Regions from separate parts of the Homo sapiens genome. Here all the other regions are linked to region 1. The links come from fine-mapping of genetic effects on gene expression. A gene starts in region 1. Each other region holds a variant in brackets. All regions are shown on one strand. Distances are from middle to middle. Region 1 holds the start of DGUOK (deoxyguanosine kinase). Region 2 holds the start of MTHFD2 (methylenetetrahydrofolate dehydrogenase (NADP+ dependent) 2, methenyltetrahydrofolate cyclohydrolase). Region 3 overlaps DGUOK (deoxyguanosine kinase).

Region 1 (7,734 bases):
ATCCAGAATATTTGAAGAATAAGACAAGCAAAAGACAACCAATAGAAAAATGGACATAAGACTTCAACAGAGGATACTGAAATGACCAATAAACATACAAAAAGATGTTTGACTTCATTAATCAGCAGGAAAATGCAAATTAAAACCACAATAAGTTATAATTACACACAGCAAAATGGATAAAATTTAAAAAGCTGACAATATCAACTGTTGGTAAGAATGTGGGAAAACCAGAACTCTCTCTCACTGATGATGGCAATGTCAACTAGAACAAACACTGTGGAACTATCTACTATTTGGGAATATCTATCAAAGCTGAGCATATATATGTAACTTATTACACAGCAGTTCCAGTCTTACTTATACACCCAAGAGAAATGCATACTTCTTTTTACCAAAAGACATGTACAAGAATATTTACCGCAACACTATTCATTATGGCTCAAATCTAGAAACTTCCGAGTACATTGTGGTATAGTGACATTGTGGAATACTATACAGCAATGAGAATGAGTGAACTACAACTAATACATTCAACCTGGATGAATCTCACAGATATGTTAAATAAAAGAAGTATTTACTATATAATTCCATTTATATAAAGAAAACGCAAAACTAATCTCTACTGTTGAAGTCAGGCTAATGGTTATCTTTGAGGGATAGTAACTGGCAACGAATATGGGGGATTCTGGAGATGCGGATAATGCTGTTTCTTGATCTGAATCCAGGTAACAGTCATTCCATTTGTGAAAACTTCATTGAACTGTACACTTACAACACATCCTCTTTTCCTCACTGCACAACACATCCTCTTTTCCTCACTACATACTATGCTTTACCATAATTTTTTTTTTTTTTTTTTTTTGAGACGGAGTCTCGCTCTGTCGCCCAGGCTGGAGCACAGTGGCGCGATCTCGGCTCACTGCAAGCTCCGCCTCCCCGGTTCAGGCCATTCTCCTGCCTCAGCCTCCTGAGTAGCTGGGACTACAGGAGCCCACCACCACACTCCGCTTTTTTTTTTTTCTCTCTCTTTAGTAGAGACAGGGTTTCACCATGTTAGCCAGGATGGTCTTGATCTCCTGACCTCGTGATCCGCCCTCGTCAGCCTCCCAAAGTGCTGGGATTACAGGCGTGAGCCACCGCGCCAGGCCACTTCACCATAAAATTTTTAAAAATAATTTTTAGGAGCTCTGTTACTGGTGGAGGGTGCCCAGGTTCTTGACATTTTGAACAAAGAATTGGACAAAACGTACAAAGCAAGGAAACAATGAAGCAACAAAAGCACAGATTTATTGTACATCAAAGAACACTCCTTGCGGTAGGAAGGGCCCAAGCAAGCAGCAATTACAGAATTTTCTGGGGTTTAAATACCTTCTAGAGGTTTCCCATTGGTTACCTGGTGTACACCCTATGTAAATGAAGTAGTGGCCAGCGATCAGTCTGATTGGTTGCAGGAGGGGACCAATCAGAGGCTGAAGTAAAGTTATGAAGTTATACCCCATGCAACTAAAGACTTGGCCTGCCACCAGCCTGACTGATTGCCCGCGGGGACCAGTCAGAGGTACTTTCAATTTTTTATCTGCCACCCAGAAGAGGGATTAGCTTCTGGTCCTTTTGTTACTTGGGCTAGAAAGTTGGGGTTTTCCTTTTGATTTAGTTCTAGGAAGTCAGCCTAAATCGGCCTTAGGTTCCCTGTCTCCAGACCCTATTTTCCTGCCTCGTAGCTTTTAGGAGATTAATGCCTGCCTGCAGACAACTTCCTCATTTAACTTTCACAACACCCCTGAGGCAGCAAGATCCTGGCGAGGCAGAGAGCCTCTCAAGCTTTTTTGGATGAATATTTTCCAAGTCTGAGTTTACATAGGTAAAGAAATGTAAGCAGTTTTTTTTTTGTTTTTTGTTTTGTTTTGTTTTGTTTTGTTTTGTTTTAACAGAAGTGGCTGCTGGAGTGGAGATGGGAATGGGTAGGACTTTAGCCGCTCCAGTAGCCATTAACGCCCCACCCTGGTTATCCTTAAAAAATTCGATTAAAAAAAAAGTTCTTAATATATAAACATGACCTCAGCCATCCTATATATACATCAACATAAGAAAAAGGTCCCGTGCTTTTTATGGGAACAGCTTCAAGACAGGTATCCCAGCCCCCGGCCCCTCCCCAGCCCCCTTGCAATCAGATCCTTGTCTTCTAAAACCTGCCACACCTAAGAGCGCTGCCTGAAGGCCGGTTTGGCCTGTTGACTCCTGGTTTTGACTGTTGGTGATTTAAGCGATTGGAACTGGAAGCACCATTTGACAACATTTTGTAAATCATTACTTCTGAGGTTGTTATGACGACGGGGTGTGGCAGTCCGGCTTCACCTGTGGCAGCAGCTTAGGTCCCTGCCCTCCTGCAGAGCACACTTCACCGACAGCAGGACTCAGGTTTTATACAAGTCTCTACTCGCCATTGCTTACGTCCAAGAACCCAGCCTACCAGGTTTAAACAATTTCCAGTCACATACCTGAGCCACCACCACCTTATCCTGAAGGGATTTTTGGGTATAATGCAAATCGATTGACCGAACATTTATTTACTTATTCAAGACACAAACTAAGAGATGGGGTGTAACTGATTATCTAATTTGTTAATTTAGTCAATAATATGCCAGCATTGTGCAGGGGAATTACAGGGAATAGGAAAAAGTTAAATTTGTGTAAATCATCAGATTGAGTCATTTTCCTACTTTAAAACTTCCATTTTCTTCCGATATTAAAATAAAAACCAGACAACAAGCACCTGGGGGGGGGGAAATCCCCTCTTAAAATTACAATTTCTATTTTTAATTTTGTCTTCAGTTATAAAATTTATTTTAAAGTTATACAAAAATGAAGTGGTTGGATTGTGGAATTACGTCTTTTAAAATGTTATTTGTCCAATGAACAAAAACCACTCGCACCGCAACTCCTTTTACTATCAAATTCTGCACCGTTGCAAAACTTCCTTCACTCAACGCTTCTTTACAAACATCGCGATAGCGGAGCGGTCTCTTGGGCGCACCCCGCCGCATGTTCAACCCCACCCACTTCCTGTCTGACGATCTCCTTACGTCAACGGTGCGCTGGAGCGAGTGAGCAGCGATACCTAGGGCGGAAGTGCTCTCGGCGGAAGTGATCGCTGTGTGAATCGTGGGTGGGATGGCCGCGGGCCGCCTCTTTCTAAGTCGGCTTCGAGCACCCTTCAGTTCCATGGCCAAGAGCCCACTCGAGGGCGTTTCCTCCTCCAGAGGCCTGCACGCGGGGCGCGGGCCCCGAAGGCTCTCCATCGAAGGCAACATTGGTAAGGGCCGGAAAGCGGCTGCCAAGCCTTGGCCTCCGCCACGCAGGCGACAGAGGCTGGGAAAGGAGCTGGGCCCGGAATGGCCTGCGTCTGATGCGGCCGGCCTCTTTTTCTGGGCTGCGAGGAGAGCCTTTCCCCTCGCAAAGTGCACTGTGTATCTTTGCCTCCTTGTTTTTAGGATATCGGGCCTCAGTACCCGCCCACAGGAACATATTTGTTGGGGCATAAAAGCCACGCAGTTAGTGGATAGGACAAGAATTGTATTAGCTGTTTGTAATAGATCGAAATTGAAGCGACAAGCGGGTGCAGTTTATTTGTTCTCCTAGATAGGGTTGCCATATTTAGCAGAAATTAAAAATAATATCCAGTTAAAATAGAATTTAAGATAACGAATAATTTTTAGTGTGTGTCCAATGCAATATTTGGGACATCCTTACAGCAAAACAACAACGAAATCACTCATTGAAAGTTCAAATTTAACTGTGTCCTGTATTTTATCTGGCAACCCTATTCGAAGAGAGTTCCTAAATTTCAGTCGTTCAAATACCACATTCACAATTTTTGCCCTGTGCCTGTGCTAGTTGCATAATAATTTCTTAAGGCTTTTCTTAGAAGAACCTCACTTTTTAAACTTAAAAACATGTATTAAATTAAAAATTATTTTGTTAAAAGAGTGAGATCCAGTATCTTGAATAAAAAGTAGTCAGAAAGCAAAATGAAGGCAAAGCATTTCGATTTAATATTAATAAATTCTGACTTGATACTTTTATCTACCAAGTCACTGAGCCCCTAAAAGGGGCTTAGCAAGTGTTGAGTACTGAAGACGTAGCAGCAAACTGAGAATTTCTTTTTTTATTCATTCAACAAATCACCTTTTGAGCCACTTCCATATGCCAGCACTGTTCTTGGCCTGGAGAATACAGCTGTGAATAGAACAAATAAAAATCTCTGCTCTCATGGAACTCAAGTAGGGAGAGATGGACAATAAACAACATAAATTAAGCAAGGTGAACAATATGTTAGAGAGTAATAAGTATGATGGAGAAAAATTAGGGATGAAGAATTGAGGGAAGTTTTTATTTTATTTTATTTGAGATGGAGTTTTGCTCTTGTTACCCAGGCTGGAGTGCAATGACACGATCTCGACTCACTGCAACCTCTGCCTCCCTGGTTCAAGCGATTCTCCTGCCTCAGCCTCCCGAATAGCTGGGATTAGGGGCACCCGCCACCACACCCAGTTAATTTTTGTTTTGTTAGTAGAGACAGGGTTTCACCATGTTGGCCAGGCTGGTCTCAAACTCCTAACCTCAGGTGATCCGCCTGCCTCGGCCTCCCAAAGTGCTGGGATTATAGGCGTTAGCCACTGCACCTGGCCGAAGTTGTCATTTTAAATAAAATAAGCAAGGCCTCACTGAGAAGGTGACATCTGAGCAAAAAACTGAAGATGAGGGAGCAAATCACGTGGATACCTGGGAGAAGAATCTTCTAGGCAGAGTGAAGAGCAATTGGAAAGGCCCTGAGGTGGAAAGTGTGTTCGGGGAATAGGAGGGAAATCGTTGTGACTGAAGTCGAGTGAGCAAGGATGGGAGGGAAATTAGGGCAAAAGCCCAAGGGGTGGCCAGATTTTATAGGCCTTATCATGGGTTTTTAATCTTACCGAGATGGGTAGCCATTGGAAGGTTTGAGGAGTCAAGTGACAGTTTTACTTAGATTATAAAAAGATCACTGTGGCTGATAACATTGAAAGTGAAGAGTGTTAAGTGGTATTGCAATAATTATAGTATTGTGAAAAGTGAAAGTGGTGAGACGTGATTGGATTCTAGTTATACGTTAACAAAAATTGAGTTACATTTTAAGTAAAATTTAACAGTGGAAGTGGTGAGAAATGATTGGGTTCTAGTTATATTTTAAGATAGGGCCAATTGGATTTGGTGACAGGTTGAATGCAGAGTGTAAGGTAAAGAGAGGGGCCAATGATGACTCCAATTATTTTGACTTGAGTACTTGAAAGATAGACTCCTGATTTTCTTTTATTTCCTCCTCTCCTTCTTCCTCCCCTCCCCTCGCTTCCCCTCCTTTGGTGTGGTCTTGCCCTGTTGCCAGGCTAGAATACAGTGATGCAATTGCATCTCACTGCAGCCTGCCTCCCAGGCTCAAGCCATCCTCCCACCTTAGCCTCTTGAGTAGCTGGATCCACAGGTGTTTGCCACTATGCGTGGCTAATTTTGTATATTTTTTGTAGAGACAGGGTCTCACTATATTTTCCAGGCTGGTCTTGATCTCCTGGGCTCAATTGATCCTCCTGCCTTGGCTTCCCAAAGTGCTGGGATTACAGAAGTGAGCCTTGGTTTTAAGCATGTTAGGTTTTTACATGCCTATTAATATCCAAGTAGAGGTGTTGAATAGGTAATTGGATATGTAAGTTCAGAATTAGGGTCTCCCCGGACTGGAGCTGTAAATGTAGGTGGTATTTAATGCCAGAGACTATGTGTTGATGGAAAGGACTGAGCCCTGAGCATGCAAATATTATGAAACTGGGGAGATGGGAAGGAATAAGCAGAGACTGAGAAGGAATGCCTACTGAGGTAGGAGAAAAAAACAAAAGAGAATGATATCCTGGAAGCCAAGTGAAGAAGGTATTCAGTGGGAGGGAATGATCAGCTGTGTTATACTGTTTAAGTAAATGAAGGTCTTTGGTGAACTTGAAAAGAACAGTTTTAGGAGTGTTAGGAGTGAAAGCCTAATTGGTATAGGTTCAAGGAGAATGGGAGGTGAGGAGAGTGGGTTAAGATAACTGGAAGTTTTTAGAAAGGGAAGTCATGGGGTGGTAGCTGAAATTAGAAGAGGGTGTGAGTGTTTAACATTTTTAATTTTCTTTTTGTGAAAAGAATTAGAGCATGTTTTTAAGTTGACAGAAGTGGTCTAGTGGAAAGGAGGAAAATTGGTAAATCGGGACAGAGGATAGAATTGCTGGAGTGATTTTTAAGCAAGAAAGAATGGAATCTATTGCCCAGTGGGAAATAATTTAGTCTTAGCTAGGAGCACAATTCATCCCTAGTAACAGGCGTGATGGCAAAATATATGAGCACCAACTTCAGAGGGTGTGGTGGGAACTTGGGAAGGTCTTTTGGTTGTGTCTGTTTTCAGAGTGAAGTAGGAAGAAAGGTCATCAGCTAAGAGTGAATGTAGAGACAGAAGACATGAAATACTCTAGTGAATAAGCAAGAGAAATGTTGAATTACTGGGTACCATTTAGGACCCACTTGGAGTTAGTGGTCATGAATTTAAAGTGAGACCAGTCACCATGGCTGTGTGTTTTTCTCCAGCCAAATCCGAAACATTGAAAGGAATGGGAAGGGAGAGTCCTGCTATTTGCCTGATGATGTTATTATTTAAATATGATGTTTTGTACTGTACTTTGAGAAACACACCCCTAAAGGAAGCTCTGTCCTCAAATCCCAGAGAGAGAACAGGGTATGTCACAAAGTAAGTACTTAGGACAGGTCATCAGATAAGGTTTGAACTCCCTCTATTTTCCTGACTTTTGCTTCTTAACCTTGTCAAATTTCTCTGCTTCTTCCTTGCTTTCTTGTGCAACAGAGGCTTACTGAGTGAGGACTAAGAGTCCACTCTCATGCTGAGCACAGCAGTGAATGGGATACAGCTCCTGTCCTTCAAGGAGCTCACAACTCACAACTAAGTAGGAGAAAACAGATTCGACATAATTTTCTTTTTTTTTTTCTTTTTTTTTTTTTTTTTTTGAGACAGAGTCTTGCTCTGGCACCCAGGCTGCAGTGCAGTGGTGTGATCTTGGCTCACTGCAGCCTCCGCCTCCCAGGTTCACGCCATTCTCCTGCCTCAGGCTCCCAAGTAGCTGGGACTACAGGCGCCCGCCACCATGCCCAGCTAATTTCTTGTATTTTTTAGTAGAGACGGGGTTTCACCATGTTAGCCAGGATGGTCTCAATCTCCTGACCTCGTGATCCGCCAGCTTCGGCCTCCCAAAGTGCTGGGATTATAGGCGTTAGCCACCGTGCCTGGCCGACTCGACATAATTTTCATACTGTGTGGTGAGATTTGTGATTGGGCATGGAAAGCCAGAATCTCTGGGGTAGGAATTCCCAAGAGGAAGAAGAGGGAAAAGTGTTTCAGCCATAGAAAGCAACATGTGCCAAGGTGGTGAAGCCTGAAGAAACACATGCAGTTTTTTGGGGGTTTTTTTGTTTGTTTGTTTGTTTTTTTGATGGAGTCTCATTCTGTCACCCAGGCTGGAGTGCAGTGGTGTGATCTCATCTCACTGCAACCTCCGCTTCCCAGGTTCAAGTGATTCTCCTGTCTCAGCCTCCCAAGTAGCTGAGACTACAGGCATGTGCCACCACGCCTAGCTAACACATGCAGTTTTAATGAAAGAGAAGTAG
Region 2 (7,734 bases), 270 kb after region 1:
TGGCTGTGAGACAATGAACCTCAGGTTTTACCCCAGACAATGAGGCTGCTTCAAGACTACAGGTGCATGCCACCAAAGCCAGCTAATTTTAAAATATTTTTTAAAGACAGAATGTGAACCCAAAATATTTGAGATAGGTCTCAATCTATTTAGAAAGTTTAGTTTGCCAAGCTTAAGCATGCACCCATGATACAGCCACATCAGAAGGTCCTGATTACATGTGCCCAAGGTGGTCAGGGTACAGCTTACTTTTATTCATTTGAGGGAGACATGAGACATCAATCAATATGTGTAATATGTACATTAATTCGGTCCCAAAAGATGGGACAATTCAAAGTGGGGAGTGGTGTGGGGAGGCTTTTACGTCATAGGTAGATAAGATACAAAAGGCTGCATTCTTTTGAGTCCTTGATCAGCGTTTCACTGAATACACAATTTAGTCTGGCTCAGTGAATCTGCATTTTTACATAAACAATAGGGGAGGCCGGACACAGTGGCTCACGCCTGAAATCCCAGCACTTTGGAGGCCAAGGCGAGCAGATCTCCTGAGGTCAGGAGTTCGAGACCAGCCTGGCCAACAGGATGATACCCCATCTCTAGTAAAATATAAAAATCAGCTGGGCATAGTGGCGGGCACCTGTAATCCCAGCTACTCGGGAGGCTGAGGCAGGAGAATCACTTGAACCCAGGGGGCGGAGGTTGCAGTGAGCTGAGATCACGCCATTGCACTCCAGTCTGGGCAACAAGAGCGAAACTCTCTCTCAAAAAAAAACAAAAACAAACAAAACAAAACAAAACAATAGGGCAGAGGAAGCAATCAGATATGCATTTGTCTCAGGTAAGCAGAGGGATGACTTTCTGTCCTGCATCTGTGAAGATCATCTATCAATTTACATTGCCAGGATGAAATTCAACAGAACTGTTTTCAGGTAAAGATCTTGAGACCCACAAGGAATTTCCTTGTGGGCAAATTGTGAGGAAGATATGCAGCTTTCTTTTTTTTTTTTTTTTTTAATCTTTGTAGCTATCTTATTGGGGAATAAATTGGAAGGCAGGTTTGCCTGACATAGTTCCCAGCTTGACTTTCCCCTCAGTTTAGTGATTTTAGAGTCTGAAATTAATTTTCCTTTCACAGGGTGTCACTATGTTGCCCAGGCTGGTCTCAAACTCCTGGGCTGAAGTGATCCTCCCACCTTGGCCTCCCGAAGTGCTGGGATTACAGGTGTGAGCCACCATGCCCAGCCCATTTCATTATTATTATTATTATTATTATTATTATTATTTTATTTATTTTTATTTTTGGGACAGAATCTCGTTCTGTTGTCAGACTGGAGTGCAGTGGCATGATCTCGGCTCACTACAGCCTCTGCCTCCTGGGTTTAAGCGATTCTTCTGCCTCAGCCTCCTGAGTAGCTGGGACTACAGGCATGTGCCACCATGCCCAGATAATTTTTGTATTTTTAGTAGACATAGGGTTTCACCATGTTGGCCAGGATTGTCTCGATCTCTTGACCTCATGATCCGCCCGCCTCTGCCTCCTAAAGTGCTGGGATTACAGGCGTGAGCCCCTGTGCCCGGCCGAGACAGAATCTCTGTCACCCACACTGGAGTGCAGTAATCCAATCATAGCTCACTGCTGCCTCAACCTCCGGGGTCAAGTGATCCTTCCATCTCAGCCTCCCGAATAGCTGGGACCACAGGTGTGCACCACAACGCCTGGCTAAGTTTTTTATTTTTTTGTAGAGATGGGGTCTCACGATGTTGCCCAGGCTGGTCTTGAACTCCTGGGCTCAAGCAATTCTCCCACCTCAGCCTCTCAAAGCACTGGGATTACAGGCATGAGCCACCCTGTTAGACTATTTAGCCTGTTAGACTATTTAGCCTAGTCTAAATAAATGATATTTTAAGAGAGTGGGAGCGTAGAAGCAGGTCCTTTTGTGAAGCATATTAAAAATATATAATAATGTTCACACATGGGTTTCGTAACTCCCCAGTGGGCTCATCTTGCCTGCTGCCTAGATACAGCCCATTTATCAAGACACAGGAATTATAATACAGAGAGCGTTTAATACACAGAGAGCTGGCTAAACCGAAGACTGGAATTTTTTTTTTTTTTTTTGAGACAGAGTCTTGCTCTGTCACCCAGGCTGAAGCGCAGTGGCTCACTGTGACCTCCCGCCTCCCGGGTTCAAGCAATTCTCCTGTCTCAGCCTCCTGAGTAGTTGGGATTACAGGTGCATGCCACCATGCCTGGCTAATTTTTTTTTTTTTTTTTTTTTTTTTGTATTTTTAGTAGAGACGGGGTTTCACCATGTTGGCCGGGCTGGTATCAAACTCCTGACCTTGTGATCCACCCACCTCGGCCTCCCAAAGTGCTGGGATTACAGGCATGAGCCACCGCGCCAGGCCAGAGTTTTATTATTACTCAAATCAGCCTCCCAGAAAGTTTGGGTGTTTCAAGGATAGTTTTGTCCATGCCCAGGAATGACCAAGGGAAGTTTGGAAGTTAAAGGCAAGATGAAGTTGGTTAGATCAGATCATTAATGAAAGTGGTCTAACTAAATGTTAGATCGCTGTTAACAATGTTTGCAAAGGCGGTTTCAATTCATTCCTGAAAGTTCACATTTTGGGAAAAGAAAATTTCCCAAATTTTGCAGAGGGATGGAGGGTTAGTTTCCTTAAAAGATGGGAAATGTGTATTTCCTTTCCCTCTTCAATCACTGTTGCTAGGTTCAAGTAACTCTAAGGTGCCTCCTCCCCACAGCGTACTGGGGACAGGATCTGCAAATTATCACACCCAGTCTTATCACCAGTTATATAACCTGTAGGCCATTCTCTGACCTCTAAACCTTCCATATCCATTGTTTTGTGGGCTCTCAGCATCACATTCTTTTTCTTAGTCTCTTATTCATTGTATGCCTGCCTCACTCCATGCCCCATAAGGGCATAAATATTACTGATCTTTTTAGCCTGGCCAACATGGGGAAACCCCATCTTTACTAAAAATACAAAAATTAGCCAGGCATAGTGGCACATGCCTGTAATCCCAGCTACTTGGTAGGCTGAGGCACGAGAATCACTTGAACCCAGGATGCGGAGGTTGCAGTGAGCCAAGATCATGCCATTGCATTCCAGCCTGGGTGACACAGTGAGACTCTATCTCAAAAAAAAAAAAAAAAAGAAAAAGAAAAGAAGAGAAAAAAAAATTACTGGTCTTTTAAAAAATTTTTGACATTATTTCAGACATACAGAAAGGTTACAGGAAAAGTTCAAAGAATACTTGTATACTCTTCCCCACTTGTTAATATTTTACATTTGCCACTTGTTTTATGGGTTTTTTTTTTATGTATATACATTGTTATGGACTGAATTGTATCCTCTCCAAAATTCAGTGTTGACACTCTGACCTTGGAATGTGACTCTATTTGGAAATAAGGCCTTTAAAACAATGATTAAAATGGTTAAAATGGGGCTGTTAGGGTAGGCTCTAAATTAATCTGATTGGTTTCTTTATAAGAGGAGATTAAGACATTCGGAGAGGCCGGGCATGGTGGCTCATGCTTATAATCCCAGCACTTTGGGAGGCCAAGACAGGTGAATTCCTTGAGCCCAAGAGTTCAAGGCTTACTTGGGCAACATGGCGAAGCCCGGTCTGTACTAAAAATACAAAAAATTAGGCTGATGTGGTGGCGCATGACTACAGTACCAGCTGCTGGGGAGGCTGAGGTGGAAGGATCACCTGAATCCAGGAGGTTGAGG[C/G]TGTAGTGAGCTGAAGGCGCACCATTGCACTCCAGCCTGGGCGACGAGAGTGAGACCATGTCTCAAAACAACAACAAAAAAAGTAAAATAATAAAAGATATTCAGAGAGAGACGTCAGGGTTGCATGTGCACACACAGAAAAGGCCATAACACAGCAGGCATGCAGCCCTCTGTAAGCCAAGGACTGCAAGCCTCAGGAGAAACCAATCCTGCCAACACCTTGACCTTCGCTTCTAGCCCCCAGAACTGTTAGAAAATACATTTCTTTCTTTTTTTTTTTTTTTTAGATCGAGTCTCACTGTTGCCCAGGCTAAAGTGCAGTGGTGCGATCTCGGCTCACTGCAACGTCGGCCTCCTGGATTCTAGCAATTCTCCTGCCTCAGTCTCTCAAGTAGCTGGGATTACAGGCATGTGAAACCATGCCTGGCTAATTTTTATATTTTTAGTAGAGACAGGGTTTCACCATGTTGGCCAGGGTGGTCTCAAAATCCTGATCTGAGGTGATCCGCCTGCCTCAGCCTCCCAAAGTGCTGGGATTACAGGCGTGAGCCACTGCACTCAGCCCATTTCTGTTGTTTAAATGACTCAGTCTGTGTTATTTTGTTATGGCAGCCCTAGCCAACTTATACATACAAAGCATTATTTTTTTCTGAACTATTCAAAAGTAAGTTACAGACATGGTCCTTTAGTACTAGAAGCAAGTGCAATATATTCTCTTACATTACTGCATGCGATTAGCTAACACTGATAAAATGCTATTAGCTAGTTGCAGACTTTATTCATATTTTGCCAATTGTCCTATAATGTCATCTATAGCAAAAGAGAGAAAAAAAGAAGCAAGAAAGAGAAAAAAAGAAAGACAAAAAGTTTTGGGTCCAGAATCCAATCCAGAATCAAACAGCATTTAGCTGTCATGCCTAGGCTCCTTTAATGGAGAACAGTTTCTCATTCTTTGTCTTTCATGGCCTTGGAGCTGTCAAGAGTACAAGCAATTTATCTTGTAGAATATCTCTCACTTTGGGCTTGTCTGATATTTCCTTGTGAATAGATTAAGATCTACTAGTGTGTTCCAAAGCTTTACAACTGTTTTTTTTCCTGGACAGTTTTAACATTCTAGGTCTGTGATCTTTCTTCTCAATGTGAAATGAGGAATCTGTAACCGTTTTTAGGAGACTCATTGGTTTAGGAAAATCACCTTATTAAATTTACAGACTTGTTAAGAGCTACGAAGTGATGTGTCTCCTCAATGGATCCTATCAGAAGGCATATATGTGTGTTCCCTTACTGGGTGGTGCTAACTTTGATCACGTGGTTGAAGCAGTAACTGTCATGTTTCTTCACTGTAAATTTACCATTTTCCTTTCCTTCCTGGAGGCTAGAAGTAAAGGTCAAGGTGTTGACAGGATTGGTTTCCCCTGTTCTTTGTTTGTTTGTTTTGTTTTTTGAGACAGAGTCTTTTTGTTGCCCAGGCTGAAGTGCAGTGGCACAGTCTCGGCTCCCTGCAACCTCTGCCTCCCAGATTCAAGCGATTCTCATGCCTCAGTCTCCCCAGTAGCTGGGATTACAGCGTCCGCCACGATGCTCAGATAATTTTTTGTGTTTTTAGTAGAGACGGGGGTTTCAACACATTGGCCAGGCTGGTCTCGAACTCCTGGCCTCAGGTGATCCGTCCGCCTTGGCCTCCCAAAGAGCTGGGGATTACAGAAGTGAGCCACCGCGCCCTGCCCTCCTTAAGTTTCCTTGCGGGAGAGATACTTTGAGACTATGCAAAAAGTTTGCGGGAAAAAATACAGGAAGCCCAGTTGAATCTGAATTCCAGATAAGCCATAAATAAAGTATAAATATGACCTCCCAAAGTGTTTATCTAAAATTCTGATTTGATTGGGCATCTTGTGTTTTTATTTGCTAGATCTGGCAACCCTATATGTAAATATCTTGCTCCTCATCCAACTTTCACCCAGTTGTTTTGACATCTATTGCTGCTTCTGAATCAGGGTTGCACATGCAACCCTGACGTCTGTCTCTGAATATCTTTTATGATTTTACTTTTTTTGTTGTTGTTTTGAGATATGGTCTCACTCTCGTCGCCCAGGCTGGAGTGCAGTGGCGCGCCTTCAGCTCACTGCAGCCTCAACCTCCTGAACTCAGGTGATCCTTCCACCTCAGCCTCCCCAGTAGCTGGTACTGTAGTCACGCGCCACCATGTACTGATTTTGGAAAATGGTGATTTTCTAACTCCATCATTCCTTTTACTTCTGTTCGTTGGCATTCTATCAGCTTGTCTTTTCATCCACCCTTTACAGTGCTTGGCACACAGTAGGCGCTCATATAATTGTTCAACGAATGAATGAATGAACTTTTCTCTTGTGTTGTCCGGCCTTCGGTGACACTAGCGGCGTCAGGCAGGAGTTTGACTTCCTCAGCCTATCATGGCACGTTGCCGAGGCTTCAGCGCCTTACAGGACCTCGCTCCAGGCTCTTCTGGCTCCAATCAAAAGCAGGGCTCTTTCGGACTTCGCTTACGTTTAATAAAGAAAACCGGTTGGCCCCTTCGGCTCCACCTGGCTCAACAGACAGCCAGTGGCATGCGGCAGGGACCAATGGGTGGCGGAGGGAGGCGGGGCCTGCCACGAGGCCGCAGTATAACCGCGTGGCCCGCGCGCGCGCTTCCCTCCCGGCGCAGTCACCGGCGCGGTCTATGGCTGCGACTTCTCTAATGTCTGCTTTGGCTGCCCGGCTGCTGCAGCCCGCGCACAGCTGCTCCCTTCGCCTTCGCCCTTTCCACCTCGCGGCAGTTCGGTAAGAGGGTCACAGAGCTCGGTCAGCGCGGAAAGCTGAGGGGAACGGAGGGCGAGGGGCACGCCGGGCCCCCGAGGGACACCGAGGGAAGTCCTTCCCGAACATCTCCGCCCCGGCGGTGGTGGCCGCTGAGGGGTGTGGCGGGGCGACGTGGCACCGAGCGCCGCCGCAGCTCTCGACTGGGGCGCTTCCTCGGCGCGGAGGGCTGGTACCCGAAGCCCGCCTTTCGGAGGGAGCCGCTCTCCTGCGACTCGGGGCGTCGCCGGGGCCCGTGGCCAGTCGGCGGGCGGGACGGGGGTGGCGTGCGGAACGCGAAGGCATCAGTTTACGCGGAGCCTTCCGACAGCGCCGGCCGCCTCTGGCTGGGATGCTGAGAGTCGTCTGGGGGAGAACAGGCGAGGGTTCCAAAAGAGCAGCCCTCGGCGAGTTGTCCTTGCGGGGACCCTAGCGGCGGAGGGCGCTGCTGCAGCTGATGAAATCGCGGAGCCGACTTGCTCGGGGTCCCCGCGCCGCCCTCCTCCCTCCGCCGGTGGGAGTGGCCCGCGCTGCCTCCGCTCTGCCAGGAACATGAACGGACTCTGGGCACCCTAGCTTTGGCTGCAGCCCACCAGAGCCTGTCAGTGCCGGGCTGCGTACATAGAGGTGGCAAACATCCGGGAGGCTCCCAGGGCCTTAGGGAAAGGGGGAATGGAGAGTGACAAGTACCCATATTTCAGCGGTACTTGCAGAATTTCAGTTTTACAAGATGAAGAGTTCTGAAGATGGATGGTGGTGATGGTTGCACAACATATGAACGTATTTAATACCACTGAACTGCACTTAAAAATGGTTAAGATGGGCCGGGCGTGGTGACACGCGCCGAGGCTGAGGCACGAGAATCGCTTGAGCCCAGGAGTTCGAGGCTGCAGTGAGCCGTGATTGCACCACTGCCCTCCAGTCTGGGCGACAGAGCGAGACCCTGTCTCAAAAAAAAAAAAAAAAAAAAAAGTTGATAAGGTTTATGTTATGTGAATTTTACCACAATAACAAAATTGGGAAAAATATACAGGGGAGGAGGAAAGGAAAAGCTCTGTTTGCATTTTTGGGTTTCCTTGGGAAGGTGATTTGGTCGGTCATTAGAGCGCTGGCATTGTTGGCATTGTTAGAGCCCTGCACCTTACAACATCAGCCCCTTCT
Region 3 (7,734 bases), 31 kb after region 1:
TTATAAATAGCTTTCCTAAAAAGAATTGTTCTGCCTTTGTGTGTGTACTTGGAAACATAAAGTCACATTTTAAAAAAATTTATTTTCACGAAACAGACAACATTTTTTTTCTCAGAAAGGAAAATGAGATGATAGCTTTGCTATGCTTAGAAATCCTAAAGCTACCTTTCTGGTGGGAATATAAATTGGTTAACCTCTAAGGAGGCAGTCTGGCAGTATATAATTGCAAGTGCATATACCTTTTGATCATTAATAAAATTTGTTTCTATAATTTCATTTCCTTAGAGAAAAGGTAAGATAAGAGGGAAACAGCAAAGACTCCCAAGTCTTTGGGATTATTGTGTACTACATTTGGAAATTAAGTTTTCATTTCTTAAGTAAGTTATTGAAAGAGGGAAGTCCTGGCCGGGCACGGTGGCTCACGCCTGTAATCCCAGCATTTTGAGAAGCCGAAGCGGGCAGATCACGATGCCAAGAGATCGAGACCATCCTGGCCGACATGGTGAAACCCCATCTCTACTAAAAATACAAAAAATTAGTTGGGCGTGGTGGCTCCCGCCTGTAGTCCCAGCTACTTGAGAGGCTGAGGCAAGAGAATCACTTGAACCTGGGAGGCAGAGGTTGCAGTGAGCTGAGATCGCGCCACTGCACTCCAGCCTGGCAACAGAGCAAGACTCTGTCTCAAAAAAAAAGAGTGAAGTCCTAAATCAGTGGGTTAATCCATCTGTTCTTCCAGGACAGATGATATTGAATAATGAAATGTTTGTCAAGCAGAGAGAGGACTGAGGATAATTCAGTCAAAACAAACATTTGGAGCAAAAATTTTGAGGTGTGAAAGAGCCTGGCCTGTTCCCCAGGAAAGAGGTCAAATCTGGCTAAAGCAGTGAGTCCAGGGGAAGAGCTAAGGCAGTTGAGAAGTAGGAGGGGTAGCTTTGTGTGACAGGTAAAGAAGATGTCATTTTCTGAGCCAGTGTGCATCAAACTTCACTACCAGATGAATGCAGAATAGAATTATGTACACTCTGCAAAGCAGCGGGGGAGGAGAGTTAGTCTCAAGCCTCACTTGTTTTTCCACTTCTTTGTTTTATCTTTGACCTGTGCAAATTTTACATTCTATTCCTGAGTGAATGTTTGGTATGACATGAAAGAGATATTTCAAATTACCTAACATTTTATAAATGCAATGCTATTCATACATACTGCTTTGAACCCTGGGGCTATGGCTGTAGGCGGTAAAGAGCCTGTGAAGTATTTTCAGCAAGGAAAGTCATGTCATTATATTGCCGTACTACAGACGGGTGGAGTGAAGGGGAAAAACTGGAAGGAGGGAACAGCTTTTGCCAGGAGCTCAATACAACTTACCTCAGTGACCTGTGGATGGGTAGACAATGAGGAAATAGAAGCCCACAAGGACTGCACTGCTAGTACCTTATGAAGGCAGGAATTTACTCCTGGACTTTCTGACCTTAAGGCCTGTACTCTGTCCATATGCTTCCCTGCCTCCAGGAGGCAGAACCAGAAGGCTCTTGCCATAATCCAGGTAAGAAGTAAAGAGGACCCGACCAGGGCAGAGGTGAGAGGAGAGGCAAGGAGAGAACATTCTAGAGAGATGAAAGAGAATTGAGTGACTTCCCAGATATAGTAGGGAGAAGGAAAAACAAGGAAAATTCCAGGTCCGTGGCTTGGATGACTGGATGGATGATGTTCATCATTAACCGACTTAGGATACTTCAGAGGAAGAGCAGGTTTAAGGTGGAGATGGGAAAAGAATGGTGTAGATCCTCTGATTGCATAAGAAAACAAGACAGCAGAAGCAAAGGCATGGCTTGTAATGCCCAAGATAGACATTATGGGTGGGCCTCAGAGCCCCCGAAGACTGCATTGTAGCAGCCAAAACAGCAAAGAGCTCATCAGGGCTTGGGGACTGTCTTTTAGGTTTGTTTGAAGAGACTGTACCAGAGGGCCAGGGAGGAGGAGAAAGGAATTGAGCTGGCCTATCTAGAGCAGCTGCATGGCCAACACGAAGCCTGGCTTATTCACAAGACAACGAAGTAAGTGGGGAGAAAAGAATGTATCAGAGACAGAGACCTGGCTCCCAACAGCCAGTTGTTAAAAACAAGTTCAGCATGCAGCCCCCTGTAGGAAGGTTCAGAATATACTGGAAATGGTTGGAAATGTCAAGCATTTTCCAACTCAGAAGTTTAATATTGCTGGACACCGTGGCTCACGCCTGTAATCCCAGCACTTTGGGAGGCTGAGGCAGTCACCTGAGGTCAGGATTCAAGACCAGCCTGGCCAACATGGTGAAACCCTGTCTCTACTAAAAATAGAAAAATTAGCCAGGTGTGGTGTCAGGCGCCTGTAATACCAGCTACTCGGGAGGCTGAGGCAGGAGAATCGCTTGAACCTGGGAGGCAAAGATTGCGGTGAGCCGAGATCGCACCACTGTACTCCAGCCTGGGCGACAGAGTGAGATGCCCAGAAGAAGTTTAATATTGAATATAATCTTTACATTCCAAGGGCCTTTTTATTAGATTGTATTTCTCCAGCTTTTTCTTTGTTTCTTAACATTTCCCTAGACTGAACATTGTGATTGATGGTGATAGTTGGCTCAGCATGAAGGGCTGAAAATGTTAGAGAAATTGTCAGTATTACTAAGTTGGCATTCCTGGTTTCTGCCTGTCCTCCCTTTAGGCTTGGTTTGTTGTCCACTTAAAATGTTTGGTGCTCTGACTGTTTGTTAGTATCACTCTCAAGAATGAAGAGAAACCTCAACCTTTCTGTTTCCGGCCAACTTTATTGAATTTGTTTTTTTAAATGCAGTTTACATGCAGTTTCTTTGAAAAGTCATGTTGAATTTAGATCTGTTCTCTGAGTAAGACTTGGCGAGTATGTGAAACTTGACTCAAGTTACATTTCTTTTTTTCTGTCCCCCAAACGTTCACGCTTCTTATAGGCTCCACTTTGAGGCTCTGATGAACATTCCAGTGCTGGTGTTGGATGTCAATGATGATTTTTCTGAGGAAGTAACCAAACAAGAAGACCTCATGAGAGAGGTGGGAAGGACTTTAACTCCTGTTTTCTGGTGGTTTCCTTTGTTGTACTTTTATCTTTCTGGCCTTTGCTTCAAAGTTCAATATCATGGGTCTTGTGCTTTGCATCTCACATTGCATTTCACACTCCAAGGCCTATGGAATCTTGTGCAGATTACAAATATCCCTATTCTCTAAAGTATGCTGGACTAATAATTGTTAAATAATTGACTTGTAACATGTGCTTGCCAGCTGACTTTCTTCTCTAAGGCATCCTAAAACTAGGGAAATGAGACTACTGGATTCTATTCCCAGCTCTGCCACTTGATGCTATATGACCCTGGGCTGCCCACATTTCTTCTCCATGCCTATTATTTTCCTTTCCTCACAAAAACCTCATGGGCTTGGCTGCATATGCATTGGGGGTGGACCATTGAAAATTCTGTTAAAAATGTGAAATTAAACTTCTGATTTTCTCCTTCCCACAGGTAAACACCTTTGTAAAGAATCTGTAACCAATACCATGA[A/T]GTTCAGGCTGTGATCTGGGCTCCCTGACTTTCTGAAGCTAGAAAAATGTTGTGTCTCCCAACCACCTTTCCATCCCCAGCCCCTCTCATCCCTGGAGCACTCTGCCGCTCAAGAGCTGGTTTGTTAATTATTGTTAGACTTTGCCATTGTTTTCTTTTGTACCTGAAGCATTTTGAAAATAAAGTTTACTTAAGTTATGCTTGTTTTTCTAATTCAGTTGCTCATTTATTTCAGCATGTATCTCTTGGTGCTTGCTCTAAATTCACCTCTAGACTAGTGTATTAGTCCGTTTTCACACTGCTATAAAGATACTACCTGAGGCTGGGTAATTTCTAAAGGAAAGAGGTTTAATCGATTCACAGTTTCGCATGGTGGGGGAGGCCTCAGGAAACTTACAATCATGGCAGAGGGGAAACAGGCACATCTCACATGGTGGCAGGTGAATGAGCGAGTGCAAGAAAGAGCAGGGAAACCTGCCTTATAAAACCATTAGATCTTTTGAGAGCTCACTGCCATGAGAACAGCATGGGGGACCTGTCCCGGTGATACAGTCGCCTCCCACCAAGTCTCTCCCTTGACACCTGGGGATTACAATTCAAGATGAGATTTGGCTGGGGACACAAAGCCTAACCATATCAACTAGCAATTTTCAAATTGCTCCCAGAACTCTAACCCAAGCCCTACCTGCCATGCATGAAGAAGGGAAATAAAGTGGCTCAAGAGTGGGTGGGATCTTAAATGTGAGCCCCCCAGAGCAGGAAATGGAGCATGAACTCCAGGAAGCTTCTTTATCTCTTCCCATCTGCCACTCTTGACATAGGGGACAGGTGTGGGGAACTTAAACCCTTGTCCTAGAGCTAAAGAACCTGGCCAAAAGAAAAAGGTAGAAAACAGCAAGAACCCAAAAGTTAAGCATCTGACATTTAAGATTGGCCCGCCCGGCACTCTATCTTTGTCTAAATACCTTACCCAATGACTTCCAGATAACGTTAATGGAGTGGATCTCTCTGTGCAGGAAAAAAAAAAAAAAAATTTTTTGTTGTGCTCTTTACCCTTCAAATAGAATTTATTGTTAAGGGAAGAAAAATACATGGCTCTATAGGATTGAAGTGCTCCATTGCCAGAAGCCTGCAGGTCCATGATTCACAGGAGCAGATCTGCACTGAACCCTTGACGGTTCTGCAGGTACACAGGAAGATGAATGATCTGGGGACGTAAGAGTGCCCCAGAAGACAGAAATCTGTGTTTCTGTCCTTTATGCTTTGGGGAAATGAATGTGAGATTGGTTTCTAACAAATACATAGGCCAGGCAAGGTGGCTTACACCTGTAATGCCAGCACTTTGGGAGACCAAGGCAGGTGGATCACCTGAGGTCAGCAGTTCAAGACCAGTCTGGGCAACATGGCAAAACCCCATCTCTACCAAAAATACAAAATTTATCCGGGCGTGGTGGTGTATGCCTGTAATCCCAGCTACTTGAGAGGCTGAGGCAGGAAAATCGCTTGAACCCAGGAGGCGGAGGTTGCAGTGAGCTGAGATCACACCACTGCACTCTAGCCTGGGCGACAAGAACGAAACTCTGTCTCAAAAAAAAAAAAAAAAAGTAATGTTTTAATATAAAAGTATGGCAATTTCCTTATCCTACTTATTTAAAACATTTTAATAGCTTTATTGATACATAATTCACATATTATACAATTCACTCATCTAAACTGTACGATTCAGGCCACACACAGTGGCTCACACCTGTAATCCCAGAGATTTGAGAGGCCAAAGTAAGAGAATTGCTTGAGGCCAGGAGTTTGAGACCAGCCTAGGTAACATAACGAGAGGCCAGCTCTCCAAAAAAGTAAAAATTAAAAAAATAAGCCAGGTGTGGTGGAGTGAGCCTGTAGTCCTAGCTACTTGGGAGGCTGAGGTGGGAGGATCGCTTGAACCCAGGAGGCTGCAGTGAGCTATGATCCTGCCACTGCACTTGTAGGTGACAGAGCGAGACTCTATCTCTTAAAAATAAAGTGTACAGGCCAGGCGTGGTGGCTCACGCCTGTAATCCCAGCATTTTGGGAGGCTGAGGCAGGTGGATCAACTGAGGTCAGGAGTTTGAGACCAGCCTGGCCAACATGGTGAAACCCCGTCTCCAATAAAAATACAAAAAATTAGCCGGGTGTGGTGGTGTGTGCCTGTAATCCTAGCTACTCAGGAGGCAGAGCAGGAGGATCGCTTGAACCCAGGAGGCAGAGGTTGCAGTGAGCCAAGATCGCACCACTGCACTCCAGCCTGGGCAACAAGAGCAAAACTCCATCTCAATAAATAAATAAATAAAAACAAAAAATAAAGTATACAATTCAATAGTTTGTAGTATAGTAGTCATGGGGCTGTATAACCAATACCACAATTCCAGAACATTTTCATCACCCCAAAAAGAAAGCCCATACCCCATCTCCCCCAAGTTTCCCTGCTGCCAACTCCCAGCCCTAGGCAACAACCAGTCTACTTTTGTCTCTGTAGATTTGCCTATTCCTGCAATTTCATATGAATAGAATCATACTATGTTGTCTCCTGTAACTTTTTTTTTTAACTGAGCATAATGTTTTCAAAGTTCATCCAAGTGGTAACATGTATCAGTACTTCGTTCCTTTCTTCCCCCACAACAGTCTCACTGTGTTGCCCAGGCTGGAGTGCAGTGGTGCAGTCACAGCTCACTGCGGCCTTGAACTCCTGGGCTCAAGCCATCCTCCTACTTCAGCCTCCTGAGTAGTTGAGACTATAGGTGCACACCACCGCGCCCACTAATTATTTTATTTTTAGTAGAGACTGTCTCACTATGTTGCCCAGGCTGGTCTCCAACTTCTGGTGTCAAGTGATTCTCCTGCCTCAGCCTTCCAAAGTGCTAGGATTACAGATGTAAGCCACTACACTCTTCACCTAGTTTTAAAGCCTGAAAGTCTACAAATTCAGCATCTCTATTGGTAAATATTGCCTTTTAGAAAGTAAACGTTGGCTGGGCACTGTGGCTCAAGCCTGTAATCCCAGCACCTAGGGAGGCCGAGGCGGGCGGATAACTTGAAGTCAGGAGTTCGAGACCAGCCTGGCCAACAAGGTGAAACCCCATCTCTACTAAAAATCAGAAATTAGCTGAGCATGGTAGTGCAGGCCTATAGTCCCAGCTACTCGGGAGGCTGAGGCAGAAGAATTGCTTGAACTGGGAGGCAGAGGCTGCAGTGAGCCGAGATTGCACCACTGCCCCCTAGCCTGGGTGACAGAGCGAGATTCTGTCTCAAAAAAAAAAAAAGTAAATATCCTCTAGGATAGTGCGGGCCATCAACAGTGTAACCTAGGTGATATTTGTCATTTTCCAAATTTGTAGCCGAGATCATCTGTAGAGAGTAAACATATTAATGAGCAGCAGTAATTTTGAATCTTAAATTGTGGGGGAGGGACAAGTAGGTCTGGGTGGAGCCTGTAAGTGTGCAGATTAGGACCACAGGAAGGCAGGCTGAAACCTTGGGCACCGTGGGTTTTTAAAGTGGACGCTAGAGAGTGGAGGTCACACTAAAACGGTCCCTACTCTACACTCAGGCCAGTCTGGATGGCTGTTATTCTTGGTTTAGGCCAACTCCCAGCGTCAAAAAATTTGGATTAACACATAAGAAATAGCTGCATTTCTTTCTGGCTTACGATGTGGTAAAACCTGCTGTTCTGGAACCTGAATATTACCTTGATGGGTTTATAACAAGGATCAAGGTTGTGAAAGTTCTCAAACTCTCAGAAGGTGATAATTTCAAGTAAAAGAGATTGTTTGTTATATGCAAATACCAGAATCACAGAGGAAGTGATGCAACGAAATAACATGCACTTTAAAATTTTAATACTATTTAACCTTCTTCAGCCCTCACTTAAATAGCAGTTTACATTTTCTGAACCACTTTCTCCTTCATGGGTCTCTCCTGGCTCCCCTACATTTGATGCCTCCCCTTCTGCTTCCTGGGCTGCCATCTTTTTCTCTTTTCCTCGAAAGTGTTGGTGTCCCCAAGGTACCCTTGGCTCATTTCTGTCTTCGTCCACTCCCTCTGCGTGATCTTGGATTTGTTTTCTATCACTGCCATTATCAAATTACCACAAATGTAACAGCTTAAAGCAGCATACATTTATTATCTTACAGCTCTGGAGGTCA

The links. PIP is the estimated chance that this variant, and not a neighbour inherited with it, causes the effect.
Region 2: its variant is fine-mapped to the expression of DGUOK in whole blood (INTERVAL, PIP above 0.99).
Region 3: its variant is fine-mapped to the expression of DGUOK in whole blood (TOPMed, PIP above 0.99). The same link has a PIP of 0.9 or more in fibroblasts.

Annotation. Positions count from the first base shown.
Region 1 is chr2:73,923,737-73,931,470 of GRCh38, forward strand. It overlaps DGUOK (deoxyguanosine kinase), which reads left to right and starts at 3,144. Exons shown (of 7, transcript NM_080916.3): 1 at 3,144-3,316. The coding sequence starts at 3,175. RefSeq lists an enhancer at 3,176-3,445.
Region 2 is chr2:74,192,185-74,199,918 of GRCh38, forward strand. It overlaps MTHFD2 (methylenetetrahydrofolate dehydrogenase (NADP+ dependent) 2, methenyltetrahydrofolate cyclohydrolase), which reads left to right and starts at 6,431. Exons shown (of 8, transcript NM_006636.4): 1 at 6,431-6,558. The coding sequence starts at 6,458. RefSeq lists enhancers at 1-655, 656-1,383, 6,093-6,651 and silencers at 6,360-6,499, 6,690-6,969, 7,100-7,189. The variant C/G (reference allele first, on the strand shown) is at 3,760.
Region 3 is chr2:73,955,190-73,962,923 of GRCh38, forward strand. It overlaps DGUOK (deoxyguanosine kinase), which reads left to right. Exons shown (of 7, transcript NM_080916.3): 5 at 1,936-2,051; 6 at 2,957-3,056; 7 at 3,521-3,757. The coding sequence ends at 3,547. It overlaps DGUOK-AS1 (DGUOK antisense RNA 1), which reads right to left. Exons shown (of 2, transcript NR_104030.1): 2 at 2,778-3,018. Among named protein-coding and RNA genes, the nearest start is that of DGUOK-AS1, 22 kb to the right of the region's middle. The variant A/T (reference allele first, on the strand shown) is at 3,560.